Linked DNA regions of Homo sapiens: region 2 is linked to region 1. The links come from fine-mapping of genetic effects on gene expression. A gene starts in region 1. The other region holds a variant in brackets. All regions are shown on one strand. Distances are from middle to middle.

Region 1 (15,793 bases):
CAGGGTCTGGAGGTGCGGCATGGACAGAGCTGGTGTCCCCGTGGACCCACCTTGGGCACACATGGTCCCATCCCACTGACCATCTGCCTGTCTTCCCCAAAGGTCGTGCCCCCAAAACCACAGCCGAGGCCTACCACGCGGGCATGTGCAGCCGGGAACGGCGGCGGGTACAGCGAGCCTTCATGCAGGGCCAGTTGCGGGTGGTGGTGGCCACGGTGGCCTTTGGGATGGGGCTGGACCGGCCAGATGTGCGGGCTGTGCTGCATCTGGGGCTGCCCCCAAGCTTCGAGAGCTACGTGCAGGCCGTGGGCCGGGCCGGGCGTGACGGGCAGCCTGCCCACTGCCACCTCTTCCTGCAGCCCCAGGTTGGCACCCCCCCCCCCCACACTGCCAGTGCTCGAGCCCCCAGTGGTCCACCCCACCCTCATGAAAGTTGCCCTGCAGGGCGAAGACCTGCGAGAGCTGCGCAGACATGTGCACGCCGACAGCACGGACTTCCTGGCTGTGAAGAGGCTGGTACAGCGCGTGTTCCCAGCCTGCACCTGCACCTGCACCAGGCCGCCCTCGGAGCAGGAAGGGGCCGTGGGTGGGGAGAGGCCTGTGCCCAAGTACCCCCCTCAAGAGGCTGAGCAGCTTAGCCACCAAGCAGCCCCAGGACCCAGAAGGGTCTGCATGGGCCATGAGCGGGCACTCCCAATACAGCTTACCGTACAGGCTTTGGACATGCCGGAGGAGGGTGAGGAACCTGGGGTAAGCCACAGGGGTGTGGAGGGGCTGTCCCCGCGTCCGCTGAGCCCTGCTCTGCCCCCAGCCATCGAGACTTTGCTGTGCTACCTGGAGCTGCACCCACACCACTGGCTGGAGCTGCTGGCGACCACCTATACCCATTGCCGTCTGAACTGCCCTGGGGGCCCTGCCCAGCTCCAGGCCCTGGCCCACAGGTAAGCACGCCCTGCCCAGTTGGAGACGAGGTTGGAGAATCAGGGCTGTTGGCCACATGTCCCTTTTTCCCTGGGCACAGGTGTCCCCCTTTGGCTGTGTGCTTGGCCCAGCAGCTGCCTGAGGACCCAGGGCAAGGCAGCAGCTCCGTGGAGTTTGACATGGTCAAGCTGGTGGACTCCATGGGCTGGGAGCTGGCCTCTGTGCGGCGGGCTCTCTGCCAGCTGCAGTGGGACCACGAGCCCAGGACAGGTGCGCCTCTCCCCACCCCACACCGCCCTGGACGCTGCCTGCCTGCATCTGACATGCTTTCCGGCAGGTGTGCGGCGTGGGACAGGGGTGCTTGTGGAGTTCAGTGAGCTGGCCTTCCACCTTCGCAGCCCGGGGGACTTGACCGCTGAGGAGAAGGACCAGATATGTGACTTCCTCTATGGCCGTGTGCAGGCCCGGGAGCGCCAGGCCCTGGCCCGTCTGCGCAGAACCTTCCAGGCCTTTCACAGGTTGGGAGGAGGCGGGCGGGGCCTGGGACCATCCACCCTCCCGCAGTGATCAGCTCTGACAGGCTCCTCCCCACAGCGTAGCCTTCCCCAGCTGCGGGCCCTGCCTGGAGCAGCAGGATGAGGAGCGCAGCACCAGGCTCAAGGACCTGCTCGGCCGCTACTTTGAGGAAGAGGAAGGGCAGGAGCCGGGAGGCATGGAGGACGCACAGGGCCCCGAGCCAGGGCAGGCCAGAGTGAGTGCAGTAAGGCCAGGCAGCTCATCGGGGTTGCAGGTTCCCTGGGCTGCATGGGGCTTGCTCTGTGGATGCAGTGCCACGGGAGCTCAGAGGAAGCCTGATGTGCCTGTCCACACAGCTCCAGGATTGGGAGGACCAGGTCCGCTGCGACATCCGCCAGTTCCTGTCCCTGAGGCCAGAGGAGAAGTTCTCCAGCAGGGCTGTGGCCCGCATCTTCCACGGCATCGGTGAGGCCTGGGAGGCCCCACCCGCTGCAGGCTGGGGCTGGGGGCTGGGGCAGGTGAGGCCTGGGAGGCTCCACCCGCTGCAGGCTGGGGCTGGGGCTCACGGCTGTGTCTTGGCTCCACCGTAGGAAGCCCCTGCTACCCGGCCCAGGTGTACGGGCAGGACCGACGCTTCTGGAGAAAATACCTGCACCTGAGCTTCCATGCCCTGGTGGGCCTGGCCACGGAAGAGCTCCTGCAGGTGGCCCGCTGACTGCACTGCATTGGGGGATGTCGGGTAGAGCTGGGGTTGTCAGAGGCTAGGGCAGTGACTGAGGACCTGGGCAAAACCTGCCACAGGGTGTGGGAACGAGGAGGCTCCAAAATGCAGAATAAAAAATGCTCACTTTGTTTTTATGGGCCCTCTTGGCCAATGAGGCAACCCCCACAAGCTGGGGACAAGCACATCACATATTCCAGGCACAGAGACATCTGGGCCACAGGCACATGTGGCTTTATTGACCACTCCAGCCACTCAGCTCAGAGAAAGGTGCTGGGTGCTAGGTCCAGGTACAGAACGGGAAAGGCAGAGAGGATGAGCAGGAGCAAGAAGCAGGGATGTGGCCCCAACCCATCAGCCAGGCCTCCGGCCAGAGTGCCCAGCAGCAGCTTCCCCAGCAGCTCCAGCGTGGCCAGAAGGCTGTAGTGTGTGGCCTGAGGGGGGTGGGGGTCACGGTCAAGGTCAGGCCCACACAGCCCCAGCCCCGTGGTCTCTCTTGTGTCCCTGCTACATCTACTCACCTGCAGGGCCCTGGGGGCCAGCTGGCTGCAGCGCATCATCCCAGTGAAGGTGACTGTGGTGACCAGGCCTCCCAAGAAGTGCTGCAGACATAGGCTCAGCAAGGCTGACCCTGGGAGGGCAGAAGTCAGCAGTGCCCCAGGCTCCTGGCCCCTCTCTTCCTCCTCAAGGCCAGCCCCTCACCTCTCAAGATTGTGCCAGCGTCCATGCTGGCCCCCAGGGTGTCCAGGTGGAAGACCAAGGCAGTCTGACAGGCTAGGCCCCCGAGGCGGAAGCGCAGCACCGACCTCAACAGAGGCAGCAGTTTCCTGGGATGGGGGTGGGAAATGGGTCAGTATAGTGGATTGGGGGCAGCTCAGGTACAAGTGGGTGGGCAGGGTACACTGGGGAGGGCTCACCAGTGCTTGGCCAGCAAGGTCCCACCCAGGGAGGAGCCAGCGATGGAGCAGACCACAGCACCCACACCATTCCACAGTCCCAACTCGGGAGCAGAAACGCCGTGGTCCAGCAGGAGAAGAGGAAACAGGCTGCTGGCACCCTGCTCACCTTGGGTGGTGGGGGGGGCATGAGCACGGGAGGTTCCATATCTGCCCCCACCTCCCTTCTCCCCACCTGGGCCCTCAGTCCTGCCCTGCTCTCCTCAGTGTTCCAGAGCTGCAGATACTGGGGGAGAAGTGGGGCAGCCCGAGAGAGCGCTCAGGGATGGGGCTAGAGCTGGGGGCGGACAAGACACAAGGCCCAGCTGCAGAGCCCCGGATGTCAGGGCCAAGTCTTGCAGGTCATACCCCAGAAAGAGCGTGGCCCTGTAATGGGTTGCAAGCCCCTGGGGACACACCTGGAGCTGTCCCGGAAGCCCCAACTGCTGTTGCCTGGCTCGAGGCCTCACTCACCCAGCTTGTAGGTGAGCACAAAGCCTGCCGTCCACACGGTCCCCGGCACGGCTAGCACGTCCCGCAGAAGGTGCGCGGTGTGGGGACGCTGCTCGGAAGGGGGCTGCTGTGGGAGCCGCCGCAGGGCTGGTGCAGCCCAGGCCAGGGCCGCGGCCAGCCAGTAGGTGGCAGCCAGGAGCAGAAAGAGTTGCGGCCACGAGAAGGTGGGCAGCAGCGCCAGCAGCGCGCCCCCAGCTAGCGCGGCCCCCAGCTTGTACGCGACCACCTGCACGGTATTGCCCGGCCCCAGTTCGGCCGGCTCCAGCAGCTGCACAGCCAGCGCGTCCAGGGCCACATCCTGCATGGCGGCACCCAGGTTCAACAACAGCAGCAACCCCGCCACAGCGGCGGGCAGCCCGGCCTGGCCAGCTCCAGGAGGGGGCAGCCCGGCAAGCAGCCCACACACCAGGCCCAGGCCCGCCGTGCTGCGCGTCACCCAGGCCCTCGCCGAGCCCTGCGCGTCCACCAGCGGGGCCCAAGCCAGCTTGAGCAGCCACGGAGCGTACAGAACCTTGGCCAGCCCCACGCGCGTCAGCGAGAGGCCGCCGGCACGCAGCAGCACTGGCAGGAGGCCGGACTGGAGCCCGTAGGGCAGGCCCTGCACCAGGTAGAGGCCGGCCAGCGGCAGCAACTTCCCGCGCATGGCGGCTCAGGCCGGCTGCGAGGCTGGGAGGTCGGGTTCCAGGTGGGGTCCCGCAAGGCGAGGTCCCCTCCGCGTGGGGTCAGAGGCCACACCCCGGCATGGCTTTGGTTCTGGGACCGGGCAGAGTCAGCGTCGTACAGGCTAGGGTCTGGACACGTGCTCTCGGGCTTTAGGAGCATCAACACCCCAGAAGAACCGAAGTCGGGTCCAAACGGGGGCGAGCGGTCCGGACACCGGCGGCCGGCGGCTCCCGGCATGCTCTGCGCGGCCGCAGGGAAGGGGGCGGGGCCACTGCCTCCCGGGGCTCCCACCATGCTCTGCGATACCGCAGGTGAGGGGAGCGGGGCCACTGCCTCCCGCGGCTCCCAGCATGCTCTGCGAGGCCGCAGGTAAAGAGGGCGGGGCCGCTGCCTCCCGGGGCCCTCGGCCCGCGCCCAGCACTGCCGGCCGGGCCGGACTCTCAGCAGTTTCTCGGCCCCCTGGAGCCACAGAGCGGAGCACGGACCACACGGCGTCGCTGGAGCCCCGCGGCCACCGGCTCCAGGGCCGGAAGGTCGCGCGGGCCACAGAGACCGCAACGGGCCAGAGCGTCAGCTCGCGGGCGCCCCCGGTGGCCAGTCCGGGCTCGGGCCCGCGGCCCCCCGCCCCGCCACGTGCGCGCTCCCACCGAGGTCCTGCGCGGGTGAGAGGCCCAGAGGGGGAAGCTACAGAGCTGGGCCGGCCTCGAATGTAAGGATCGGCCTGCGCCCACGGCCAGCCCTGGCCCCTCTCAGTAGTTTCGGATCCGCTCCAGGCGTGCTTCCTTCCTGGTGTCAGCCGAAGCGTGGTTGCTGCAGTGCCCAGCCCCCGCTTCTCCAGCCGCCCGCATGAAGGCGTCCGTTTCTTAAGGGTTCCGCCGTCTACCACTGGATACTTCCGGTGCGGACCCCAACCTTGCTGTGTCTGTGGCTTCAGCTCCTCCGTAAGGCGGTGACAGAGCCATGGAAGTTAGGAGGGAAGTGTGAAAGGTCAGGACCCAGCTTAGCTCAGAAGGACACCGCCAGCCACTGCCCGTGACGCCCTTCGGTGTCCGGTGACAAGGCTAGGAGCACCCTGCCTGATTCGAGCCCGCCCTGCCAAGGGAGGGGCCCACCTGCTGTGTCTCCTGCCCAGAGCTGTGCCCTCTGGGGCTCCCGAGGGCCAGATGAGGCTGTGAAGTGTGTGTGGCCTGTGGTTAAGAACCATCTCCAGAGCGAAAAAAACCAGGTGCCCTTGGCCAGTCCTATCTCCCAAGTTTGTGAGTCTCTAAAGCCAGCCCTGTCCTTGGCGGACTTGAGGGCACTGGACCCAACGCATTTTTCTGGCTGCCGAGGCCTCTGAGGGGGTTTCTTGTCAGCTCAGCAGGTTTTTGGGTTGCAGGTTTCCACGTCTATCAAATGGGGACTATCATGCCTACTTCAGAAGAGCATCTGTGCAGATTGAGTGACCCCCCAGCAGTGTCTGCATGTAGTAGGTGCTCAGCCATGCTCCCCAGGCCAGGACACAGCGCTGCCCACTCCCGCTCAGCCCAGCCCCTGCCTCCTCCAGCCCCAGCCCTCCCCTGGGACGCTCCCTTATCCTCTCCCTCTGCCTCCCACTCCACCCAGCCGAAGGACTGCACCACACAATGACACCAAAGGTGGTCTCTGGCCCCCCAGACAGTGGCCCCACCCCTGCTTCCTTGGGTAAGAGAACCAAGACTTCCTTCCTGAGCTGTCAGTCACCCTGACCAGCCAGCACCATGCTGGTTTAGTATTTCCCCCTGCCCCAGGGAAGACATGGACCTCACAGGAAAGGGAGCCAGGAAGGAGGCAGTTCACTGTGCCTTCCTCAGGAAAGGCTGTGTTTCTTCGGGTGGCCACCTGGGCCCCTGGCTCCCTAGATTCTTGGGGGCTTCCACAAAGGGGTGTGGGGCCTGCGCTTTCCTCACACTCTGGACCCTCTCAACCCATTTCTGTGTGATCTGACGGGCTCTGCCCCACAACCAGAGGCCAGAGGGAAGACCCAGCCTATGGTGGGCACGGGGTCTTCAGGAGGAAGAGGTGGGTGGTGGCCGTGGAAGGTCCCTTCTCTGAAGGGACTCAGGCCTGCAAGAAGGGTAGGCAGGTGGGAGCGGGCCACGCAGCTGCCAACGCTTCCTCCCTGGAGTCAGACTGCCACACAGCTTTATTAGGGACCTGCAGAGAGGCAGGGGCCCAGCACCCCCCCCACCCCACCCCGCCAGGCATCAAGAGCAAGTACAGTGGGCTCCAGAGCCTCCCAGGGCTCCTGAGCACACAGTCCAGGGCGACCCAGCCTGGCCCCAGCTGGGGTGCTCAGGAGTACTCGAGGGTGAACTTGGCATGGAACCTGCTCAGCTTCTCCAGCAGCAGCCGCAGTTTCTCCAAGGGGGGCAGAATGGTCATCCTGAAAGGAGTTGACAGTGAGTGAAGGGCCAGGGTGGCGGGACAGGGAGTGAGGGCCAGGCCTCACCGGAAGTGGTAGGTGCCTTCCCGCTGCCCAAAGCCGCTCCCTGGCACCACGCAGATGCCGGTCTCCTCCAGGAGGCGCAGGCAGAAGAACATATCGGGGGCCAGGCCCAGCTCCTGTGGACGGAGAGCCGTCAGAGAGGGATGCCCGGCCCCCCCTGCCCACCCCGCAGGCCCCGCCCCCGCCTGACCTGAGCGCGCTCCACCGCCCGCGGGGGCAGCTGCACGCGCGGGAAGGAGTACATGGCGCCCTGCACTGGGTTGCAGCTGATGCCAGGAGCCTCATTGAAGACCTGCTCGGTGAGCTTGGCCTTGGCCGCCAGCTCTGCCAGCACTGCCTGCTTCTCCTGTGGCCGCGGAGGGAGGGCCCATCAGGGCACGGCACTCGGCATCCCCCACCCCTGATTAGGTCACCTGGACCCCCTCCTGCCCCCAACTCACAGCCTGGAACTGCGCAAAGGAGGGGTCGGTGGGCGCGGGCGGGCTGACCACCAGGTCCAGCAGGGCCTGTCCTGGCACCGGCGGGCACAGCCGCACACTCATCAGCTTCAGCATCTGCTGCTGCACTGCAGCGTCCATGTTCACCACCTCCACATAGCCGCCGCGGAACCCGCACCTGCGCACGGCCAGGTCAGGTGCGGAGGAGGGGGTGGCCCATCGGGCGAGGAGGGCCTGGCCATGGCCCGCGAGCCCCCACCCGCCTCGTACGCACGCACTCGCCCATGTAGCCCTTGGAGGTGGAGTGGAAGGAGGCAAGCTCCTGCTGCCCGGCGTAGGGCGGCCCCATCTCCATGAGCACCTTCTTGAATGAGTGGAACTGCGAACCCGCGGCGTACACGTTGTCCTGGTACACCTGGAAGGGCGCAAGGCGTCACGGGGGCGGACTGTTGCCCGGCTTCCCGCTCCCCCGCGCCGCGCACCTCGTCCGCCAGCAGAAAGAGCCGCTCTTCGAAGGCGAAGCGGATCACGGCCTCGATGCACTCGCGGGTCTGCACCTGCCCTGGGGTGCCGGGGAGGCAGCAGTGCTGGGTGAGCCAAGGGGGCGCACTGCCCTCCGCTGGGCAGCCGGGGTCCAGCGGACCCGGCACTGCCTGGGCCAGGGCGCACGTGGGTGCGGGAGGAGTGGGGCGGGGCGGCGGGGAACGCACCGTGGGCGCGGAGGGAGTGGGGCGGGGCGGCGGGGAACGCACCGTGGGCGCGGGGGGAGTGGGGCGGGGCGGCGGGGAACGCACCGTGGGCGCGGGGGGAGTGGGGCGGGGCGGCGGGGAACGCACCGTGGGCGCGGGGGGAGTGGGGCGGGGCGGCGGGGAACGCAACGTGGGCGCGGGGGGAGTGGGGCGGGGCGGCGGGGAACGCACCGGTGGGGTTGCCAGGGTTGATGACACAGAGCGCACGAGGGCGGCAGTGGTCACGCGCCTGGCCCAGTGCACGGTGAAGCTCGGCCACGTCCAGCGCCCAGGCACGCTCCTCGTCCAGGTAGTAATCCACCTGCACTGCGCCCAGCTCTGCCAGCGTGGCCGAGTAGAGTGGGTACTGGGGGATGGGGATGAGCACACCCGTGCGTGTGTGGCCCTCGCCGGCCACCAGCAGCTTCAGCACCGTCTGCGGAAAGGAAGGGGAAGGCAGGGTTGGCGAGGCCTGGGGCCGCACCTGTCCCCCACCCTGGGCGCCCCCTCTGCAGTGTCAGGAATGTCTTGGTGCCCATGCCCAGCCTACCACGATGGCATCGCTGGCCCCTGTGGACAGGAAGACGTTGTTGGGGTCCGCAGGGATGCCTCCGTCACGCCTCTCAATGTACCGCGCCACGTCCTCCCGGATCAGCTGGATGCCGGAGCTGACGCTGTAGGCCCCTGGACTCGGGCAGGACAGGATGGGAAGTACAGGTGAAGTTCTCCTCAGCCCTCCCAAGGGACTTCCCTCCTCCAGTGGCAGGGCGGCCCTCTGCTTCCTCCTGGCCCTGGCTCTCACCCAGACTGTGGCCCCCACACGCCTGCAAGATGCGCTCCGCCCTTTTCTTGGCATCGTCAGGGAAGTTGGGGCTGCTCAGAAGATCAGGGTTAACACAGAGGGCCAAGACCTGGGAAGACGGAGTGCTGAGGCCAGGGCACATGGGCTGGGGGTGGGGGGGTGCTCCGGGCAGTGCAGGAGCCTCACCTGGCGCAGGAAGGTGATGGGCCTCTGCCCCATAGCCTGTGCGTCCCCGATGTTGGCACGGATGACCTCGGTGAAAGGCTTCTTCACACCCTGGGAGGGGAGGGGAGCAGGCAGGGAGACTGTGCCCTACCTAACCCCTCAGCCCTTGTCCCATGTGCCAGTGGGGCTGGGGCCAACTCGGCCACCCCATTGTGACCTGGAGGGCAGCGAGGGGCCCTGGGCCATACCTGGCGCAGCTCCTGCTCCAGCTCCAAGGCTCGCTGCACTATGGGGCCACGCACTGCGTACTCCACTCTCCGCACACGCGGGTTCATGCCGTCCAGCGTCAGCACCTTCGCCCTCAGTCCATGCCTCACCGCCTGGCTCCGGTCACCTGTGCTCGAGGCCATGACTCTACCCAGACCAGGCGGGAAGGCAGCTCAGGAGGTGGCAGGACCAGAAGTGGGAATGGCGACAGCTGGGTCTGGCTTAGTGGGCCAGGGCTGGGAGGGGGCAGCCGTAGCAGAGGGAACTCCAGGCAAGAGAGCACCCTCTTCACCGCAGCTGGCCTCACTGGGAGGGACAGAAAGGGCTGAAGGAGCTGGGGACAGTTGGGCCCCGCCCCACCCGTCTGGGAACAGCTCTGCCCCAGGGAGGCAGAGGCAGTGGGTGAGGTGGCAGGCGGGGCTTGGGGCAAGGCCCAGTGCCTGCCTAGTGTCCCCACGAAGGGAGAGCAGGAGACCCACATGGGGGGTAGGTACAGACGTCAGTCCGGACAGCTCTGAGGGACTAGACATGGGGGGAGGGGGAGAGGGCTGAGCACCTGGGGTGCTCAGGAGGTGAAGGGGTGCCCAGCAGCCCTGAGGGGCTGGCAGAGCTGGCAAGGAGGGACCCCCGAGGCGAGACTGGAGCCTGGGCTGCTGGGATTTACCCCAGCAGGGCTTGGCCGAGGCCTGGCCCTCGTGGCACCCGCATCTTTGCTTGGGCCAGCGGACCTGTCTCCTATTAACTGAGCCAGGCCTCAGGAATCCAGGGGGTGCTGGGGGGAGGGGAGGGGTGTTCAGGCTCTGGGTTCCATCTGGACCCTCCAGAGCTGGCAGCTATGGCCCAGAGGCTGCAAGAGCTCTGTAGCTGGACCTTGGTCCCTGATGAGCACTGCGAGGGGCTGGGGGAGGGGGCTGGAGCCAGGCAGTCCAGCCCTGAGCCCTGGGACAGCTCACACCGTGGCTGCTGTCATGCCCTTTCACCAGGCACCAGCTGGGGGTTGCCCTTGGGACACACCCGAGGCTAGGGGTGACCTGAGCTCTCCAGCCCTCTTGTTCCCGATTGGAGGAGAGAGTAGGAAACGAGCTGGGATAGGCCGTCAGAGCCCCACCTCCACAGGCCTGCTGAGCTGAAAGGCCAGGCTCCACGCTGGCCCACCCCAGCGTCGGGCACCGAAACCTGAACCATGGGGGTCAGGGAGCCGGCCCTCTGAGCAGGGCTGTGGGCAACCAGCCAGGCCCAAGTCGGACCTTGGCTCCTCTGATCCTGCTGGCTGGGAGAAAAGCCATCGGGAGCCCTGGACAGCCGGCCCCCAGGCCTCTCACCGTGCACGTCTCTGTTCCGCTGCCACAACAGCCTCCCCGTGCGCAGGCCTGCCCCTCTGGCCCCCAGGCCGGGGCACAGGTTAACATGGGCCTGGCCCCAGGCAGAGCCAGCCCCTGCCCGCCCCCTGGCAAGGGAGTCCAAGTGGCAGCCCTGGTGGCAGGTGGACCTTGGGCAGCTGCCCCACCCCCCACACTAAATTTAACCAGCAGCCAGCCCTGGCCCGCCCACAGCCCTGTGAGGACACCCTTCCAACCAGGGATGCTAGGGGAAGGGCAGGCCCAAAGGACACTGGGCTGACGGGCCCGTGCTGAGCCAGGAGGGAGAACAGCCCAAACCCACACCACCCAGCACTGGTGGCCACACAAAGCCGCCCACCATGAACAGACGAACCAGCGGTGCCCTCAGCCCTCCTGCTTGAGGCCCCTAAGGGGCCCCCTCACCCTGACACATTGTGCCAAGCCAGCTCAGAGCCAGAGTGGCCAACTGCGTGTCCCCTATGCCAGCCCAGGCGGAAGCTGGCAGCCAGGCCCCAGGATTAAGGCTGCGTGCCAGGAACTGGGGACCCACAACCCCCCCAGGGAGCTTCTGACACAGCCTTGTGCTTGTTTTGCCCCTCTGGCTCTGACACAAGAGTCTTGTGGAAAACACCACCTCCCTTTCCAAGCCATGGTCCCTGGGACCCCCACCTTCCGCCCCTCAGCACAGACACCCTAGGCCCTGGCCCCCATGGAGGCTCCTTCAAAGCACCTGGCTCCTCTCAGGAGAGCAAAGGGTTACGGAGGAGGCTCCAGGAGGCTGAGCATGGGAGGGAGTGGGTGAGGCCCAGGCTTCCAGCCCAGTGGCTGTGAGCCTCACTCCCACACAGCCAGGGCTGCCACATGCCCCAGCGCGCACCTACAGGCTTTCATGCTCACAGGCACGGGTGGCACCCCAGCCAAACAGCACAACCCACTCCCCACTGTGGGACAGCGACCCAGCTGAGACACACAACACACAACGAGGCTCCATGGCAAAACAGCCCTTTATCAAGAGTTGCAGGATAAAAATAGTCTTTGCAGCCAGACATCCCTCCAGGCATGTCTTCTGACCTGAGAGGGGCCAGTGTCCTGTACAGTAGAAGCCGGGGTTTCCGTGCTGCACCCGCAGCACCAGGGCACGCACCGTGGGGAGGCAGCCTTGGGCTGTGCCCGCGACAGGGCCCCTGCATGCTGAGCAACAGCCTCACATGAGCAGGCAGCACGGCCTCCTCTCCACGGGAGCCTCCACCGCCGGGGCTGTGAGCTTGAGCAGGGGTGGGTCCCCGCCTGCCCTGAAGCCACAGTCAGGCTGGGGGGTCACCGTGTCACCAGGCAGGCCAGGCTCAGCTGTCTCAGGGCTCTCGGGCCCCTCAGGTGGGGGTCGCTGCAGCTTGGCAGCAGCTCGCTGGCGCTTCAGGTCAGCCAGGGTGTGGTGGGCCTTGTCGTGGACCAGGGTGTGGGGGGTGGTGCTGTCCAGGGGGCTCAGCTGGTAGGAGACACTCCGGTCTAGTCGCTTGGAGTATAGATGCCGCACTGGGGAGCCCCCTACTCGGCCATTGTGCGGCCTGACCACTTCGGGGTTGTCCTCCTGCGGGCAGTGAAGGTCCCAGAGCCATCAGGAGGCTCCTCCCCCCTCCCTGGCCTTGGGTTCAGGCTGTATGGTCATGAAGGGACAGACAGGAGAGATGGGGCAAAAGCTGGCCCCTGCAGGGCACCATTCCTGACACAGGCAGGAGGGGGTCCAAGCGGAGAGAGAACCAGGGCAGAGCCAGGCCCACCCCTGCGCTGGGCGGAGCAGGGACGGGGCGCTCACCTCCGGGGGCGGCGGCCTGAGCTCTGCGCCTGTCTGGCGGTCATCGTTGTCCTCGGGCGGCTCCGGGCTGGTGGGCGGCGGCTGTTGCCACACGATGGCCTCCTGGGCGTGCTGCTTGCGGTACAGGTCGGTGCGCTGGGTTAGGCTCACCCGCCTCACCACCTTCCTGGGGAGGAGAGAGGAGAGGGAGTGAGGGGAAGGGGAGTGCCCGGAGGACCCCGCCCACCCCCTCGGACTCTGCCCCCAGTTCGGCTGGCACTCCGCCCGGGGCTGACGTCCGCGGGGCCAAGCCCGGGGCGGGGCCTGCTGGGGGCGGCGCTCACCCGCGGCTGCCGGCGCTGGAGGTGCGGCGGCGCAGCAAGGAGCGCTGGCGGCTCTGGGCGCGCAGGAGGGCGTCGTGCTTGTGCTTCAGCTCCAGCAGCTTGGCCCGCACCTCCTCGTCCCCGCACACATCTGAGAAGTGGGCGCAGGCGTCAGGGGCGCCCTCCCCGCCTGTCCTCTCCCCCAGGTGGAGGTGGGCCCCGCAAGCTCACCAAGGGGCGTCTCGTCCATCAGGGACTTTGCGTTCAGGTCGGCCCCGTGCGCCACGAGCAGCTCCACCAGGGGCACCTGTGGACGGCAGGCCGGAGCTGCAGACTGCTGCGCTGGAAGCCCCCTCCCACCTGCTCCCGCCCGCACTCACCTGGCCCCAGTAGGCCGCGGCGTGCAGCGGCTCCCAGCCGTCTTGGTCCTTAGCGCTCAGGCTGGCTCGGTGTTCCAGCAGCAGGGCAGCCGCCTCGCTGAACCCGTTGGCGGCTGCGACGTGCAGCTGCAGGCAAGCGCCCGGCCTGAATTCGGCCCCATCCCCCACCTCCAAGTAGCGAGGCCCCCAGCCCCGTGTGCCCCTCACCCCCCAGCCCTCACCAGCGTGGCCCCGTGGTCCAGGGGGGCATGGAGGTCTGCCCCGGCCTGCAGCCGGCTCCGGATGTCGTCCAGCATGCGCAGTTCTGGCACGGCCCGGGCGGCCTCGATGCTGTCCTGGGTGATGCCTGCGAGGCGGCAGGCTCAGAGGGAGCGCGACCGGCAGCCCTCCCACAGCCGCACCGCCGCACCTACCACGGTCGGCCATGGCAGTCTCCAGGCAGTCCAGCGTCTGCTCATCATCACACAGGTCATAGGGCATGTTCCCGTCGGTGTTGACCGCCAGGAGATTGGCGCCACTGCAGGGAAGACGGACGGGGTGCTGGGCACAAGGCCCTTCCCCGCTTGCCAGGCTCCTCACTTGGAGAAGTCCCCGCCAGGGCCCCTCAGCCCAGGGCTGCCCCTCAGGAGGCACCCTGTCCACCTGCTGCTGGGAGAGGCAGCCTTGGGGCCCATCGGCTGTCCTAGATCCTGTCATTAAGCCAGACAGGCCTCCTGCAGTCTCTATCCATCCAGGGATCCAGGTTCCTGGCACCTCCAGGGGCAGCGGTGCCCCCATAAACATGCATTGGATGGGCCTGCCTGCTGGGGAGCAGGGAGCACAGGGTGGCGGGGGTGCAGGACCAGGCAGCCACGCTGAGGGGCTGCTGAGCTGTGGGGAGCATGGCCCCAGGGAAGAAGGGCGGTGAAGGGGAGCCCAGAACACAGAAGGGGGTGTCTGTGTGCAGTGGAGGAGCAGGCCTACCTGTGGACACCCCACATCCCCGCCTGCCCCGCAGCGCCTGTGTGTGACGCGACCGCCATGCACACCCCACCCGGCCTCACAGGGGCACTCGAGAATGACCGCAGCCCTGACCTCTCTCCCACTACAGATGCCTGGAGCAAAGGGGAAGGGAGGAGGCTCATGGACCCTCCCTGCTCAGAGTTCCCCCCGCTCTACGTCCCTCTGTGTTAAAGGTAAAGGCCCTACCTGTGCTCAGGTACCCTCTCCTCCCAAGCCACCTGGCCTCCTCACTCTGCTTCCCTCCTTAGCAGTTCTGCCCTCCTCACTGACCAAGACATTTCTCTGTGCACACTCTGGGGGGGGGCCCGAGGCCTGCCCTCTCGGCAGGAGGACGAATGCTGGGGAGGCAGGGACCGCGCTGCCCTGGGCACATGCCCATTCCCCTGGAGCCCCAGGCCCTGCTCTCCATGCCAGGACACAGGCAGGGTCAGCAAAGGTGAAGGCGGGAACACAGGAGGCCGAGAGCCACAGATACTGCCCAAGAGGAGCCTCCTGAGCGGCCATCTGAGAGGAAGCCTCTCCCTGCCAAGGACGCCCAACAGGCCCTACCTGGCGATGAGCAGCTCCACCAGGTGCAGGTGGCCGCAGGTGGCCGCAGCATGCAGAGGCGTCCAGCACTCACTGTCACAGGCATTGATGTTGGCCCCAGCCTCCAGGAGCTGCTGCACCATCTCTCGGAAATCATCAATGCAGCACTGCAAACCGTGCCACGTGAGCGACCAGAGCACGGGGGCCAGCCCCCACCCTGCCCACACCCAGTGCAGGCTGACCTGGTGCAGGGCCGTCAGGCCGTCCTCGTTGGCCAAGTCAGGGCTGACCCCACTCCCAAGGAACTGGCGGACTGCAAAAAGGTGGCGAGGTGAGGACAGGGTCCTGCCCCTGGTCAGGTCCTGTCAACTGTGCTTCGGCCCAGGACCCAGGGAAGGACAAGGAAGACAGTGGTGCCGATGGCAGGAGGCACACCAGAGCCCAGGGGTGGGGGCAGAAGCACCAGGCATCTGTCTGGCCCAGGCCGGTCACACTCCCAGAAGCCCTCTGCCTCCACCCACCTGCAGGCCCTTCATGGTGGTGCTCCAGCCCTCCGACCCCCAGAACAGGCCGTGCTCCTGTGTGAGAGCAGCACTCCAACAATCCCACACCTCCCTCCAGCCCAGGAAGAGCTCCCTGCCTGGAGGCTACCACAGCTCCTTCGGCTCTTCCCTGACAACCTGCCAGCCCTGTGTTCATGAGCTCTCCTGGGTCCTCTGGGACCTGACCTGAGGCTCCCCACCACCAGAGCACATCCCTGCTCTCACTCCCCTCCCCATCAAAGATCCCAACTCGGGCCCAGCTCTCGCCCAGGTCACCAGGGTTCTCCCTGACGGTGCCTGGGGTGCAGCAGGAGGGCTCCCACCTTCCCACAGCTCCCTGTGGACCATGGCACCCTCCGCCTCTTCCCTCTGCCTCCAGGCCTCCCGGGAGGGCTCCTGTCCACATGGAAAGATGCAGGCCAGACACTGCCGGCTCCTCTTTACTCTCTGCTCCGGAGGGAGGCAGGAAGGAGTCTCAAGGGCCACCACAGTGCCTCTTCCCCCAAGACTCCAGAGCACCAGAAGTGGAACCCACACAGCTGGGGCTGCAAGCGTGGGGCACAGGTGAGGAGAAGAGAGTCACAAGCAGAGCCTAGGGCAGGCACTGAGAGGGGGCCACCTGCATAGCTCTGTGCCTGCCCAGGGCCTGGCTCTCTCACCCACAGAGGTGGCTGGTCCCACCCTATTTCACGGAGGTGGAGACCAGGGCTCTCCTGAGCAGCCTAACAAGAAGCAGCAATGACTACCGGCC
Region 2 (15,793 bases), 57 kb before region 1:
GCCTCAGCCTCCTGAGTAGCTGGGATTACAGGCATGAGCCACCACGCCTGGTTAATTTTTGTATTTTTAGTAGAGACGGGGTTTTACCATGTTGGCCAGGCTGGCCTTGAACTCTTGACCTCAAGTGATCTGCCCGCCCCAGCTTCCCAAAGTGCTGGGATTACAGGCCTGAGCCACCGCGCCCAGCCTCAGCATATACGCTTTTCTGTTGCTCTCTCTGTCCTCATTTTCCCCACACCCACTACTCTGTGTGTTTTTGTTAACATTTGGATGGATGTCTTCCTGCCCTTGTTCTGATGTTTCTGTCTCTTCAAGTGTGTCAACTTTATGGAAGGAAAATTGAAAGGCAATAAACCACACACATTTAAAGCATACATTTTGATAAGTCTTGATGTATGTACACACCCATGACCATCACCACAATTAAGGTAGTGCACTTTCCACTGGTGCCAGAAGTCTCCTTGCCCTCCTGTTCCCCTCCCACCTGTCTCTGCACAATCCCCCACATTCCTAAGGAACCATTCGTCTACCTGCTTCACTATAGATTAATTTGTGTTTTGTAGAATTTTACATAAAAGGACTCAAGCAGTATGCACTCTTTTTTGTCTGTCATCTTTCACTCCATGTAATTGTTTTGACATGTTGTTACATGTATCCGTAGTTTATTCCTTTTTCACTGCTTAGTAGTATACCATTGTATGGATGTACCGCCTTCTGTTGGGCATTTGGGTTGTTTGCAGGTTTGGGCTATTACAAATAAAACTGCTATGAACATTCATGTACAAGTCTTTGTTTGGACATACATTTTTATTTCTCTCAGAAAATACCCAGGAGTATTTTGAGGCTCTGTAGTTAGGTACATAAACATTTAGGATTATGTGCTCCTGATGAATCAGTCCCTTCATCATTGACCCTCTTTGTTCCTAGAAATATTCTTTGCTCCAAAATCTACTTACATTAATCTTGGCACTCCAATATTAATTTGATTCATGTTAGCATGGTATCTCTCATTTCAACCTTTTACTTTTTACCTATTCTTTTGTCTTTATTGTGAGTTTTCCTGTAGGCATCATATTATTAGGTCACATGTTTTTATTCAGTCTGAACGTCTCTGCCTGTTTATGGGGGGATTAGACCATTAACACAGTGTGATGATTTGCATGGCTAGGGTCAGGCTTAGGCGTAAATCTGTCGTCTCGCTGTTTGATTTGTTGTCTCTTTTGTTCTCAATCCCTTTTTCCTCTTTTTTTTTTCCTTCTGCACTAATCGAGCATTTTAAAATTCACCTTTATCTCCCCTTGTTGGATTCTTAATTATGGCTCTTTGCTACTTTTTAGTGATTGTTTTAGGGTTTATGTATTATCTTATATTAACTTACCATAGTTGACTTTCAAATGATATTATCCCGCTTCATAAATGGTGTAAGAACCTAACAGCATTTATTAGGCTCCATTTCTCTCTAATTTTGTCCTGTTGCTGTCAAGTATGTTACTTTTCTACATGTTATCAATGTCTTAATACATTGTTATCATTTGTACTTTAAACAGTCAGTTATCATTTAAAGAGATTTTAATACTAAGCAAACATTTCTACATCACCCCACACAGTTCCTGTTTCCTGTGCTCTTGATTGCTTGTGTAGATCCAGATTTGTGTCCATCTGGTGGCATTTCTTTCTGCTTCAAGGACTTCATGTAACATTTACTGAAGTGCAAGTCTGCTGGTAATGACTTCTTTTAGCTTTTGTGTTTTTGAAAAAGTCTTCCATCTTTTTTTTTTTTTTTTTTTTTTTTTGAGACAGAGTCTCACTCTGTCACCCAGGCTGGAGTGCAGTGGTGTGATCTCGGCTCACTGCATCCTCCACCTGCCAGGTTCATGTGATTCTCCTGCCTTAGCCTCCCAAGTAGCTGGGACTACAGGCGTGTGCCACCACACCCAGCTAATTTTTGTATTTTTTTGGCAAAGACGAGAGTTCACCATGTTGGCCAGGCTGATCTCAAACTCCTGACCTCAGGTGATCTGCCCACCTCAGCCTCCCAAGGTGCTGGGATTACAGGCATCAGCCTGTAGGGTCCAGCCCCACAGGGTCAGTGGGTTTTCTCCCCATGTGCGGAGACGAGATTGTAGAAATAAAGACACAAGACAAAGAGATAAAAGAAAAGACAGCTGGGCCCAGGGGACCACTACCACCAAGACATGGAGACCGGTAGTGGCCCTGAATGCCAGGCTGCGCTGATATTTATTGGATACAAGACAAAGGGGCAGGATAAGGAGAGTGAGCCATCTCCAATGATAGGTAAAGCCACGTGGGTCACATGTCCACTGGCCAGGGGGCCCTTCCCTGCCTGGCAGCCGAGGCAGAGAGAGAGGAGAGAGAGAGAGAAACAACTTACGCCATTATTTCTGCATATCAGAGACTTTTAGTACTTTCACTAATTTTCTACTGCTATCTAGAAGGCAGAGCCAGGTGTACAGGATGGAACATGAAGGTGGACTAGGAACGTGACCACTGAAGCACAGCATCACAGGGAGATGGTTAGGCCTCTGGATAACTGCAGGCGAGCCTGACTGATGTCAGGCCCTCCACAAGAGGTGGAGGAGTAGAGTCTTCTCTAAACTCCCCCCGGGAAAGGGAGACTCCCTTTCCTGGTCCGCTAAGTAGCGGGTGTTTTCCCTTGATACTGACGCTACTGCTAGACCACGGTCCGCTTGGCAACGGGTGTCTTCCCAGACGCTGGCGTTACCGCTAGACCAAGGAGCCCTCTGGTGGCCCTGTCTGGGCATAACAGAAGGCTCGCACTCTTGTCTTCTGGTCACTCCTCACTATGTCCCCTCAGTTCCTATCTCTGTATGGCCTGGTTTTTCCTAGGTTATGATTGTAGAGCAAGGATTATTATAATATTGGAATAAAGAGTAATTGCTACAAACTATTGATCAATGATATTCATATATAATCATATCTAAGATCTATATCTGGTATAACTATTCTTATTTTATATATTTTATCATACTGGAACAGCTCGTGCCTTCAGTCTCTTGCCTCAGCACCTGGGTGGCTTGCCGCCCACATCAGCCACCACACCTGGCCTCATTTTCATTTTTGAAAGCTACTTTTGCTGGGTGTAGGTTAAGATTTATTCCTTTTTGCCACTTCATTGTCTTCTGGCTTGCATCATTTCTAACAAGAAATCAGCTGTCATTCTTTGTATTTCTTTACATAATGTGTCTTTTAACTCTAGCTCCTTTATTTCTTTTTTTTTTTTTTCTTTTTTTGAGATGGAGTCTCACTATGTCACCTAGGCTGGAGCGCAGTGGCACGATCTCGGCTCACTGCAACCTCCACCTCCTGGCTTCCAGCAATTCTCCTGCCCCAGTCTCCCAAGTATCTGGGATTACAGGCGCACACCACCATGCCCAGCTAATTTTGTATTTTTAGTAGAGCCGGCGTTTCACCATGTTGGCCAGGCTGGCCTCGAACTCCTGACCTCAAGTGATCTGCCCACCTTGGCCTCCCAAAGTGCCGGGATTACAGGCATGAGCTACCATACCCAGCCAATTTCATTCTATTTTTTTGAGGCAGGGTCTGGCTCTTTCACCCAGGCTGGAGTGGAATGGCGTGATCTCTGCTCATTGCACACTTTGCCTCCCAATCTCAAACTGTCCTCCCACCTCAGCACCTGGGACCACAGGTGCACACCACCACACCCAGCTTATTTTTGTATTTTTGGTAGAGATGGGGTTTTACCATGTTGCCCAGGGTGGTCTCAAACTCTTGGACTCAAGCGATCCACCTGCCTCGGCCCCCAAAGCACTGGATTTGCAGGAGTGAGCCACCACACCTGGCTCTAGCTCCTTTATTTTCTCTATTTTGCTCATTTTAAGCAATTTGATTAAGATAGGGGTTTATGTCATTTTCTTCGTGTTCCTTGTGCTGGGGTTCGTGTAGCTTCTTGGACCTCTCAGTTTATGGTCTTCATCACGTTTGAGAAATTTTCAGTCATTTTTTCTCCCAAAACAAAACTTTTTTTGTTGTTGAGACAGGGTCTCGCTCTGTAGCCCAGGCTGAAGTGCAATGGCGCAATCACAGATGATGGCGGCGTCAACCTCCTGGGCTCAAGCGATCCTCCCACCTCTGCTTCCTGAGTAGCTGGGACCACAAGCTTGCTGACTTCCGTACCCAGCCTTTTTTTTTTTTTTTTGTAGAGTTGGGGTCTCTCTGTTTTTCCCAGGCTGGTCTCAAACTCCTGGGCTCAAGCGATCCTCCCGCCTCAGCCTCCCGTAGTGCGACAAGTGTGAGCCACTGTGCCTGGCCTTTTCTTTAGACTGTGTTTGTGCTCACACCCCCACCCAGCACTGCAGTTATGTGTCAGGTCACTTGAAGTCATCCTGCAGCTCTCTGACTCTGTGGGATAATTTCCATTTTCTTTTCTTTTGTTTTTTAAGATGGAATCTCGCTCTGTCACCCAGGCTGGAGTGCAGTGGTGCAATCTCAGCTCACTGCACCTCTACCTCCTGGGTTCAAGCAATTCTCCTGCCTCAGCCTCCCGAGTGGCTGGGACTACAGACACCTGCCACCGCGCCTGGCTAATTTTTGTATTTTTAGTAGAGACGGGGTTTCGCCACATTGCCCAGTCTGGCCTTGAACTCCTGACCTCAAGTGATCCACCCGCCTTGACCTCCCACCATGCTGGAATTACGGGCATGAACCACTGCACTCAGTCCCACTTTCTCTTTTTTCTTTATTTTTCCTCTGTTTTTTGTAGCTTTAATTTTGGATCATTTCTGTTGTTGTGCTTTCAAATTCACGAAGCGTTTTTTCTTTCTAGTGGTGGGTTTGGTTTGGTTTGGTTTTGAGGCAAGGCCTTGCCGTTGCCCAGGCTGGAGTGCAGTGATGCAGGCTCGGCTCACTGCAGCCTCAACCTCCTGGCCCAGACAGTCCTCTCAGCCTCCCAAGTAGCTGAGACAACAGGCACACATTACCACACCTAGCTAATTTATATGTATATAATTTTTTTTTTGAGATGGAATTCACTCTTGTTGCCCAGGCTGGAGTGCAATGGCGCAATCTCGGCTCACGGCAACCTCTGCCTCCCGGGTTCAAGCGAGTCTCCTGTCTCAGCCTCCCGAGTAGCTAGGATTACATGCACATGCTTCCACGCCTGGCTAATTTTTGTGTGTTTTAGGAGAGACAGGGCTTCATCATATTGGTCAGGTTGGTCTCGAACTCCTGACCTCAGATGACTCGCCCCCATCTTGGCCTCCCAAAGTGCTGGGATTACAGGCTGAGTCACCATGCCTGGCCTTTTTTTTTTTTTTTAGAGATCTCACTATGTTGCCCAGGCTGGTCTCAGACTCCTGGCCTCAAGTGGTCCTCCTGCCTCAGCCTCTCAAAGTGCTAGGATTATAGGCGTGAGTCTCCATGCCCAGCCCCAGTGTATTTTTCCTCTCAGACATCATAATGCTTATCTCTAGAACTTTGATTGGGTTCTTTTTTGTATATTCTACGTCTCTACTTAACATGTTCAGTCATTTCTCTAGCTTTTTGAACATATGGAATACAACTTTAGTAACTGTTAATGTCTTTCTCAACTACTTTCATTTGTGTCAGTTTGGGGTTAGGTTCAACTGGTTGAGTTTTCTTGTAATAGTTCCCTTTTTTTCCCCTTCTCCAAGTTATTGGTAGAGATTCAGTGCATTCTGAGGAGCAAGAACTTCCATCTTGTGAGCAAAAGTTGTTGATATATGAGGGGAAGCCATCCCAGCAGGGGAAGCACCAAGTGGCACGTCCCGAGACGGAAGAGCATTTGGTGTGCTCAGGGGACAACGGGGGCCAGTGCTGCTGCTCAGAGAAACCAAAAGGAGTTGGCATTCCTGACTATCAGAACCAATTGCAGATGTTCATCTCTTGTTATTTGTGATGACATTTTACATGCTTCATCTGCAAAAATGTCTTTTTACACAGAGAGCTACTGCCAAATACTGGTGTCAGTCCATGAGCATATGATTTGGAAGGCATTTATCAAATTCTGCTGGATCTATATTTTGAGCTCAGAAAATATATCTGCTGCAAATTTGTGTGGGAATGGAAATCTCACTTTCTGTTTTAATTTTAGACACCATGGGAAGTAGATAAAGCAGCTTGACATTACTTATGATTCAGACATTAGTTGACATCGAAATAACTTTACTGCAATATAAGTTTCACACATATGCACTGTTTGATTTGTAATGTTAGGTTGAATTCATTAAGAAATGTTGTCAAGCCTACAACAAAAATTAATTTCCAAAGTCATTAATTGTGCACTTATTTATTTATTTATTTTATTATTATTTTTTTTAGATACAAGGTCTCGCTGTTACCCATGCTAGAATGCAGTGGTGTGATCACAGCTCACTGCAGCCTTGAACTCCTGGGCTCCAGTGATTCTCCTCCAGAGCAGCTAGGACTATAGGCATATGCCACTGTGCCCAGCTAATTTTCTTTTATTATTATTATTTTTTTTTTATAGAGATAAGGTCTCACTATCTTTCCAGGCTGGTCTTGAACTCCTCGTCTCAAGTGATCCTCCTAACTCAGCCCCCTAAAGCATTGGGATTTTAGGGCTGAGCCCTAAAATTTTAGGGTGCCAAGCCCTTTTCAGTGTTTAATAGTGGTTGAGGGAGGTTTTTCTCATGCAGAGACTTTTAGTCTTGGCCCAGAGTTTTCTAAAAAATGACAATAAAACTTTGCCACTGCGAAGCTGTTGAATTTTGTGTGGTCGGAAAGTGAGAATATTTATCATTGATTTCTGACAAAAATTCATGGAACTAATGATGGCTGAGTCATGAGAGTGCATGAAGTTCGTGTTGATGCCACTGTTTCAGTAACTCCTAATAGATTCAAATACTTTTCACAAAGTAGCTGCTAATGAAAAACACAATAAACATAGGCTTATATTTTCACATTATCTTCAGTTTTCATAAGCTTTGTAAGTTTGTCTAAGTAAGCCTTTTCTGATCCACATATATTCTTAGCATGATCAGTTGTAGTTCATCTTAGTAGATTCCACTTCAGGTCATACAAAATTAGTATTTTCACAACTTATTTGAAAATACTGTGTGTTCTAGTTGTTCCACATAGAGCAAGTGATAGAGGCTAATTCTTTGGTCACTTCAAGCTCAATATTGACTCCTTCAAACATAGCAGTACCAGTAACGTCTGTCAGCTCATCAAGAGCCAAGGAAACCACTGGAGTCCGATGGAAACCACTGGAGTTAGTCTGTGGAAACCACTGGAGTGAGTCCGATGGAAACCACTGGAGTGTGATGGAAACCACTGGAGTCCGATGGAAACCACTGGAGTGAGTCCGATGGAAACCACTGGAGTCCAATGGAAACCACTGGGGTGCGATGGAAACCACTGGAGTGAGTCCGATGGAAACCACTGGAGTCCGATGGAAACCACTGGAGTGAGTCCGATGGAAACCACTGGAGTCCGATGGTAACCACTGGGGTCCGATGGAAACCACTGGAGTGAGTCCGATGGAAACCACTGGAGTGTAATGGAAACCACTGGAGTGTGATGGAAACCACTGGAGTGTGATGGAAACCACTGGAGTCCGATGGAAACCACTGGAGTGAGTCCGATGGAAACCACTGGAGTGCGATGGAAACCACTGGAGTGCGATGGAAACCACTG[GAGTCCGATGGAAACCA/A]CTGGGGTCCGATGGAAACCACTGGAGCGCGATGGAAACCACTGGAGCGCGATGGAAACCACTGGGGTCCGATGGAAACCACTGGAGCGTGATGGAAACCACTGGAGCGTGATGGAAACCACTGGAGCCCGATGGAAACCACTGGAGCACGATGGAAACCACTGGAGCACGATGGAAACCACTGGAGTGTGATGGAAACCACTGGGGTGAGTCCAATGGAAACCACTGGAGCCCGATGGAAACCACTGGGATGTGATGGAAAGCACTGGGGTCTGATGGAAACCACTGGAGTAAGTCCGATGGAAACCACTGGAGTAAGTCCGATGGAAACCACTGGAGTAAGTCCGATGGAAACCACTGGAGTAAGTCCGATGGAAACCACTGGAGTAAGTCCGATGGAAACCACTGGAGTGTGATGGAAACCACTGGAGTGTGATGGAAACCACTGGGGTCCGATGGAAACCACTGGAGTCCGATGGAAACCACTGGAGTGTGATGGAAACCACTGGAGTGTGATGGAAACCACTGGAGTGCGATGGAAACCACTGGAGTGTGATGGAAACCACTGGGGTGAGTCCAATGGAAACCACTGGAGCCCGATGGAAACCACTGGGATGTGATGGAAAGCACTGGGGTCCGATGGAAACCACTGGAGTAAGTCCGATGGAAACCACTGGATTAAGTCCGATGGAAACCACTGGATTAAGTCCGATGGAAACCACTGGAGTGTGATGGAAACCACTGGAGCGCGATGGAAACCACTGGAGCGCGATGGAAACCACTGGAGCGCGATGGAAACCACTGGGGTCCGATGGAAACCACTGGAGCGCGATGGAAACCACTGGGGTCCGATGGAAACCACTGGGGTCCGATCGAAACCACTGGAGTGTGATGGAAACCACTGGGGTCTGATGGAAACCACTGGAGTCTGATGGAAACCACTGGAGTGTGATGGAAACCACTGGAGTGTGATGGAAACCACTGGAGTGTGATGGACACCACTGGAGTGTGATGGAAACCACTGGAGTGTGATGGACACCACTGGGGTGAGTCCGATGGAAACCACTGGGGCCCGATGGAAACCACTGGGATGTGATGGAAAGCACTGGGGTCTGATGGAAACCACTGGAATGTGATGGAAACCACTGGAGTGTGATGGAAACCACTGGGGTCTGATGGACACCACTGGAGTGTGATGGAAACCACTGGAGTGTGATGGAAACCACTGGGGTGAGTCCGATGGAAACTGCTGGGGTGCGATGGAAACCACTGGGGTGTGATGGAAACCGCTGGGGTGCAATGGAAACCACTGGGGTCCTAGGGCTGTTGTGTTGCTCTCACTGTCCTCAACTCCTCAAGCAGCTGCTCTTGCCAAAAGGCTAATAGTCTTAAGCAAGTTTATCATCTCTCGACACAGTTTTAGATGCCATAATCAACACAATGTAATTAATTTCCCATCAGTGAACAGTTTTCCTTGCTTGGCTAACAAGTGAGCCACATTAGAACATACGTTAGTGTAAGGGTCATTTTTATTTTTGTAAAGTAATTCTGCCGTGATGAAATACTCCACTTGAGAGTTTCTGTTTCTGTTTAAAATGTTTCTGACAGTTGTGTAAGTTGAGTCTGTTGTGACGAGTACTTGCTCTAGTAGTGTTGACGTCATGCTCCTTTAGCACAGCCATAGCATCACCGCCTCAGGAACATGATATTCATCTAACTCAGTAACAGAGTAACCCGCGCACCGCTGGTCCTCGAGAGCATAACATTGAAGGCCCACTTGCAGGACCCCAGTCATCTTTTGGTGACGAGTCAGAAATGGTAGGAGGGTTAGATACAGATACAGCAATCTTATAGATGTCTTTGCCTATATGGTTTTCCATCTCGGCATATTCCATATTTCTAGCTTTTTGTTCTGTACCGTAATTATGTGTTTGAAGATATTGACCACCAGCCAACTTTAACGTTTGCCATTTGTTTTTTTATTTTGTTTTGTTTTTTTGAGACGGAGTCTCGTTTTGTTGCCCAGGCTGGAGTGCAATGGCAAGATCCCAGCTCACTGCAACCTCTGCCTCTTGGGTTCAAGCGATTCTCCTGCCTCAGCCTCCCAAGTAGCTGGGATTATAGGCACGCGCCACCACACCCGGCTACTTATTGTATTTTTAGTAGAGACGGGGGTTTCACCATGTTGGCCAGGCTGGTCTCAAACTCCTGACCTCAAGTGATCCACTCACCTTGGCCTCCCAAAGTGTTGGAATTACAGGCGTGAGTCACTGTGCCCGGCAAGTTTGCCATTTGTTGATACAACTGATTTTAAAACATTTTTAAAATGACCTTTTTATTTGAGAAGCAATGTACATTAGTCATAGAAGATATGTATAATTACATAAAAGAAAATAAACACTTGTAATAGATATTAGTGCTGTCTACCACAGGCCAAGCACACAAAATTCAAAGTGCTCCATGATCTGGAACGTTTTGAGTGTCAACGTGATGCCACAAGTGGAAACTTCCACGTCTGACCTCAGGTGATAGGTTGCCATTAAAACACAGTCAAAACTTTGTTTCATGCACAGAATTATTAAACATATTCTATAAAATTGCCTTCAGGCTATGTGGATAAGGTATATATGAAACATAAATGAATTTTGTATTTAGACTTGGGTCCTACTCCCAAGATACCTCATTATGTATATGTATATGTAGATATTCCAAAATCCTAAAAAATCCAAAATCCAAAACTCTTCCGATCCCAAGCATTTTAGATAAGGGATCATCAACTTGCCTTAATTTTCTGGCATATATCCTTGAGGTTTTTAAAATATTTTACCACAACCGTATTTCAGCAGCCATGTCATATTTCTCAGTAGGAGCAATGTGCTTACTTAGTCCCTGTCCTCAGACACACGATTGGTCTCCAGCCTACTTGCTGTGTACAAAAATTTTAATCCCTGTCTCCTGAATTATTTTATATATTTGGGTCAATACTTGCGCTTTCTGTTGCATTCCAGAATCCATCCATCTACTAGTACTACACTGCTTTAATTATGTAGCTTTTTTTTTTTTTTTTTTTTTTTTTTTTGGAGACAAAGTCACTCTGTCACCCGGGCTTGCACGATCTCGGCTCACTGCAAGCTCCACCTCCCAGGTTCAAACAATTCTCCTGATACTGTGACCACAGGCATGTGTCACCCTTCCGGCTAGTTTTTGTTTTTTTGTTTTTTGTTTTGAGACAGAGTCTCGCTCTGTCGCCCAGGCTGGAGTGTAGTGGTGCAATCTTGGCTCACTGTAAGCTCTGCCCCCTGGGTTCACGCCATTCTCCTGCCTCAGCCTCCCGAGTAGCTGGGACTACAGGTGCCCACCACCACACCTGGCTAATTTTTTATATTTTTAATAGAGACAGGGTTTCACCATATTGGCCAGGCTGGTCTCAAACTCTTGACCTTGTGATCCGCCCACCTTGGCCTCCCAAAGTGCTGGGATTACAGTGTAAGCTACCGTGCCCGGCCCTAGTTTTTGTATTTTTAGTAGAGACGAGGTTTTGCTATGTTGGCCAGGCTGGTCTCGAACTCCTGACCTCAAGTGATCCACCCACCTCAGCCTCCCAAAGTGCTGGGATTACAGGCATGAGCCACCGTGCCCAGCCTAATTATGTAGCTTTATATTACTGTTTATATCATCCTTTCTGTATTACTTCTCAGCTATTTTTATATGGGGCTTTTTGCAGGGAGCAGAGTAGGGGGTGAACATACTGAACATTCTTAAGTTCTGAAAGTACTCCCGCTGAACATTTTTCTTTAGCTCCCTACTGTTGCCACTGAATGAAATTATTACTAGAATTTATGGCCAGGCGCGGTGACTCACGCCTGTAATGCCAGCACTTTGGGAGGCCAAGGCAGGTGGATCACCTGATGTCAGGAGTTCGAGACTAGCCTGACCAACATGGCAAAACCCCGTCTCTAATAAAAATACAAAAATTAGCCAGGCGTGGTGGCAGGTGCCTATAGTCCCAGCTACTTGGGAGGCTGAGGCAGGAGAATTGCTTGAACCTGGGAGATGGAGGTTGCAGTGAGCTGAAATCAAGATCACACCACTGCATTCAAGCCAGGGTGAGAGAGAGAGACTCCATCCCCCAGCCAAACAAAAAAAAAGACATTAAACATATTAACTAATTTAAAAAGAAGTCATATCTTTATATTTATTGAATTTTCCCATCCGGGAGTGTGTGTTTCTCTGTTATGTATTCAAGTCTTCTTTTATATGTCTCAACAAGACTTTACAGTATTATTCATATTGATACAGCACATTCCTCACTAACCTGTGCCTAGTATTTTGTTGTTACTGTTGCTTTAATAAAGGTGAGCTTGGTTTCCAGCCAGTCACCACCACACAGCACAGCCTCTGATGGCAGGTGGTACGTAAGTGAGGTCTCTCCGCACTGCTGAAGTTTCTCATTCGATTGTTTTAATTTCTCTAGGCTGACAATTGATGATCATTTTTATGTCTTCCTTTCAAATATTTGAATCTTTTGTGGTTTTTTTTCTTGTCCAGTTGCATTGCCTAGCACTTCCAAAAACTGTATTAAACAATGGTGGTAAGGATAAATAATTCTTGCCCTGACTTTCATGGGTATGCTTTCAGCCTTTTGCCACTGAATACTACGAAGGTTCAGCCTTTTGCCACTGAATACTACGAAGGTTCAGCCTTTTGCCGCTGAATACTATGAAGGTTCAGCCTTTGCCTCTGAATACTATGAAGGTTCAGGCTTTGCCTCTGAATACTACGAAGGTTCAGCCTTTGCCTCTGAATACTACGAAGGTTCAGCCTTTGCCTCTGAATACTACGAAGGTTCAGCCTTTTGCCGCTGAATACTATGAAGGTTCAGCCTTTGCCTCTGAATACGATGAAGGTTCAGCCTTTTGCCGCTGAATACTACGAAGGTTCAGCCTTTTGCCACTGAATACTACGAAGGTTCAGCCTTTGCCTCTGAATACTACGAAGGTTCAGCCTTTTGCCGCTGAATACTACGAAGGTTCAGCCTTTTGCCACTGAATACTATGAAGGTTCAGCCTTTGCCTCTGAATACTACGAAGGTTCAGCCTTTGCCTCTGAATACTACGAAGGTTCAGCCTTTTGCCGCTGAATACTACGAAGGTTCAGCCTTTGCCACTGAATACTACGAAGGTTCAGCCTTTGCCTCTGAATACTACGAAGGTTCAGCCTTTGCCTCTGAATACTACGAAGGTTCAGCCTTTGCCTCTGAATACTACGAAGGTTCAGCCTTTTGCCTCTGAATACTATGAAGGTTCAGCCTTTGCCTCTGAATACTATGAAGGTTCAGCCTTTGCCTCTGAGTACTATGAAGGTTCAGGCTTTTGCCGCTGAATACTATGAAGGTTCAGCCTTTGCCACTGAATACTATGAAGGTTCAGCCTTTGCCTCTGAATACTATGAAGGTTCAGGCTTTTGCCACTGAATACTATGAAGGTTCAGCCTTTTGCCTCTGAATACTATGAAGGTTCAGCCTTTTGCCTCTGAATACTATGAAGGTTCAGCCTTTTGCCTCTGAATACTATGAAGGTTCAGCCTTTGCCTCTGAATACTATGAAGGTTCAGCCTTTTGCCTCTGAATACTATGAAGGTTCAGCCTTTTGCCTCTGAATACTATGAAGGTTCAGCCTTTGCCTCTGAATACTATGAAGGTTCAGCCTTTTGCCTCTGAATACTATGAAGGTTCAGCCTTTTGCCTCTGAATACTATGAAGGTTCAGCCTTTGCCTCTGAATACTATGAAGGTTCAGGCTTTGCCTCTGAATACTATGAAGGTTCAGCCTTTGCCTCTGAATACTATGAAGGTTCAGCCTTTGCCTCTGAATACTATGAAGGTTCAGGCTTTTGCCGCTGAATACTATGAAGGCCTTGAGTTTAATTTGGATATTCTTAATCAGATTAAGTAAATTTTCTTCTACTTCTGGACTACTGAGAGTTGTTTTAGATCATAAATACTTATCGGTTTGATCACATACCTGGGAATATCTGTCGGGATAATCGCCTACTCAGCCATTCATTTCATAGATATTTGTTATGTTCCAGGCCCTGACCTTCAGCAGTCACAGTCTCCAAGGGTATTTCTTTTTTTTTTTTTTTTTTTTTTAGATGGAGTCTTGCTCTGTCACCCAGGCTGGAGTGCAGTGGCGCCATCTCGGCTCACTGCACGCTCCGCCTCCCGGGTTCACGCCATTCTCCTGCCTCAGCCTCCCAAGTAGCTGGGACTACAGGCGCCCGCCACCACGCCTGGCTAATTTTTTGTATTTTTAGTAGAGACGGGGTTTCACCATGTTAGCCAGGATGGTCTCGATCTCCTGACCTCGTGATCCGCCCGCCTCAGCCTCCCCCAGTGCTGGGATTCCAGGCGTGAGCCACCGTGCCTGGTCTCCAAGGCTATTTCTAGCCATGCTTCCTTCCCAGGTCATCTTTTTATGTCTGGCTGAAGCTGTGATTCTCAGTAACCCCATCTCTATGCCCTTAGAACAGTAGCCCCAGCTCCAATGGTTCAAGCTTCTGAAATCCAGGTGTCCCAGCCACTCCCTGGCCTCTGGATGGGCCACAGTGGTGTGTACCTGCTGGAAGAAGGTGGACTCAGGGCAGAAGATGAAGAATACAGCCTGGGGGCAGGAGCCAGGTTATTTCCAGGAAATTGAGGTGGCAGTGCCACATTCTTAAGTCAGGGAGTGGCTGGTTATGGTAAACGATTGCACTTATATTCATATTTCTTTCATTTTACTGTGTTTCAGCTCTTCACCACCAGGAGTGTTCCTTGAGAAGGACTATGAGATTTACCGGGATTACAGTGCGGACGGCCAGCTTCTTCACTACAGGTAGAACCCATCTCTCAGGCGTGGCCGTTTGTGATGGAGGGCGGCTTCCTCAGTGAGCCAGGCTAACTGCAAGTGGGAGGTGCCTGGCGCGTAGCAGCAACACCACAGACCCAGAGCTGGAAAGGCCGTGGAGGCCACAGGGCCAGGGGCCTGGACAGGAGCCCCTTAGAGCTGCCCCAGGCCCATTGGCAGCCCCTGTCTAGGAACTTTGTCTCTGCCTGGCTTAGGCAGCCTGGAGCCTGCGGTGCTTCCCTCAGCCCCTGGTGGAGCAGCAGAGTGCTGGAGGGTCCTCAGTTAGGTCCACCCCTGGCATCTCAGGCCACACGTGCCAAAGCACTTGCCAGGCCCGTCTGGAAGGTTGGCGCTAATCACAGTGGAGGGGTGGGCTTTGGCTTCCAGTAGCCCTGGGTCAGCCTCACAGACTGCTGGAAGGTTCTGGAGACCACCCTCAAGACCCTACTGCCTTCACGCTGGGCGGGCAGGACGCTCCCTCCACCTCCCAGGATATCCAGGCAGAGGCAGGCACCTGGATTTCTCCTCCTTGGCCAGGTGGTGACCAGTTTGCTGTGGGAGATGCAGGGCCAGGGCCAGCTGCTGTTTCTGTAGGGGGGTGGGTGTCCGCAGCATGGGCCACCCAGGGGCACTGTGGTGCTGGGGAGGAACTGGAGGACCCGAGGGGGCTCTGGCGTTCTGCACAGACGATTGAACAGCTGGAGCTTGGAAGTGGTAACGGTTTGTTTCTTACATTCGTATTTGTTGAACATTAGGGTTGTGGCAGGGAATTAGAGCCTGCCCTGGTCCCAGCAGTGTGGCTGTTTGATAGAGGACAGGTTTTATAGCCTTCCCGAGCTTCCGTTTCCTCATCAGTGGGATGGATCTGGGCAGCTGACTCAGTGGTCACTGCAGAGTGACAGAGCTCGTAGTGGAAGGGCCACCCCCACTGTGGCAGATCAGGTCCTGGCTCTGGTCACCAGCCTTGGGGCTTCCTGTGGACCCAGCATGTGCTTAGTGGACCAACGCGACTGCATCCTTCGTGGTGGACGTGCCCACCTGGTCTTTGTTTGCCAAGCACTGCCTCAGCTCTGCCATCCCCAGGATGCCATTCTCCCCCAGGATCAAGGGCCCGACTCACTGGCATTATCCCTGAGCTCATCTGTGGCACCCACAGAGCTTTCAGGAAAGCCAGTGTCCCAGGTGAGGTGAGGAGGACCTTCTGGCCTCTCTGG

Direction of the effects. Alleles are on the strand shown, and positions count from the first base shown. SD is a standard deviation of normalised expression in the study named.
As copies of GAGTCCGATGGAAACCA replace A in region 2, the expression in whole blood of the gene that starts at base 4,513 in region 1 goes down (moderate effect, 0.62 SD a copy in GTEx).

Evidence for each region.
Region 2: its variant is fine-mapped to the expression of SLC33A2 in whole blood (GTEx, PIP above 0.99).

The regions. Positions count from the first base shown.
Region 1 is chr8:144,497,790-144,513,582 of GRCh38, reverse strand. It overlaps SLC33A2 (solute carrier family 33 member 2), which reads right to left and starts at 4,513. Exons shown (of 5, transcript NM_138431.3): 1 at 3,568-4,513; 2 at 3,076-3,223; 3 at 2,861-2,985; 4 at 2,680-2,789; 5 at 2,370-2,592. The coding sequence starts at 4,249. The coding sequence ends at 2,419. It overlaps GPT (glutamic--pyruvic transaminase), which reads right to left and starts at 9,443. Exons shown (of 11, transcript NM_005309.3): 1 at 9,117-9,443; 2 at 8,890-8,979; 3 at 8,704-8,812; 4 at 8,452-8,585; 5 at 8,094-8,337; 6 at 7,656-7,735; 7 at 7,452-7,588; 8 at 7,177-7,351; 9 at 6,927-7,082; 10 at 6,740-6,852; 11 at 6,411-6,673. The coding sequence starts at 9,278. The coding sequence ends at 6,583. RECQL4 (RecQ like helicase 4) reads left to right here. Exons shown (of 21, transcript NM_004260.4): 13 at 1-12; 14 at 103-365; 15 at 445-736; 16 at 812-941; 17 at 1,022-1,191; 18 at 1,259-1,439; 19 at 1,516-1,672; 20 at 1,794-1,902; 21 at 2,028-2,295. The coding sequence ends at 2,152. It overlaps PPP1R16A (protein phosphatase 1 regulatory subunit 16A), which reads right to left. Exons shown (of 12, transcript NM_001329443.2): 4 at 14,743-14,813; 5 at 14,522-14,667; 6 at 13,384-13,487; 7 at 13,192-13,316; 8 at 12,971-13,096; 9 at 12,822-12,897; 10 at 12,612-12,741; 11 at 12,289-12,454; 12 at 11,462-12,063. The coding sequence ends at 11,680. It also overlaps LOC101928953. RefSeq lists enhancers at 3,098-3,721, 5,463-5,592, 5,903-6,032, 9,135-9,795, 13,106-13,767 and silencers at 4,253-4,962, 10,423-10,717, 12,379-12,738.
Region 2 is chr8:144,554,334-144,570,126 of GRCh38, reverse strand. It overlaps ARHGAP39 (Rho GTPase activating protein 39), which reads left to right. Exons shown (of 12, transcript NM_025251.3): 4 at 14,484-14,567. Among named protein-coding and RNA genes, the nearest start is that of C8orf82, 33 kb to the right of the region's middle. RefSeq lists an enhancer at 1-457. The variant GAGTCCGATGGAAACCA/A (reference allele first, on the strand shown) is at 7,678.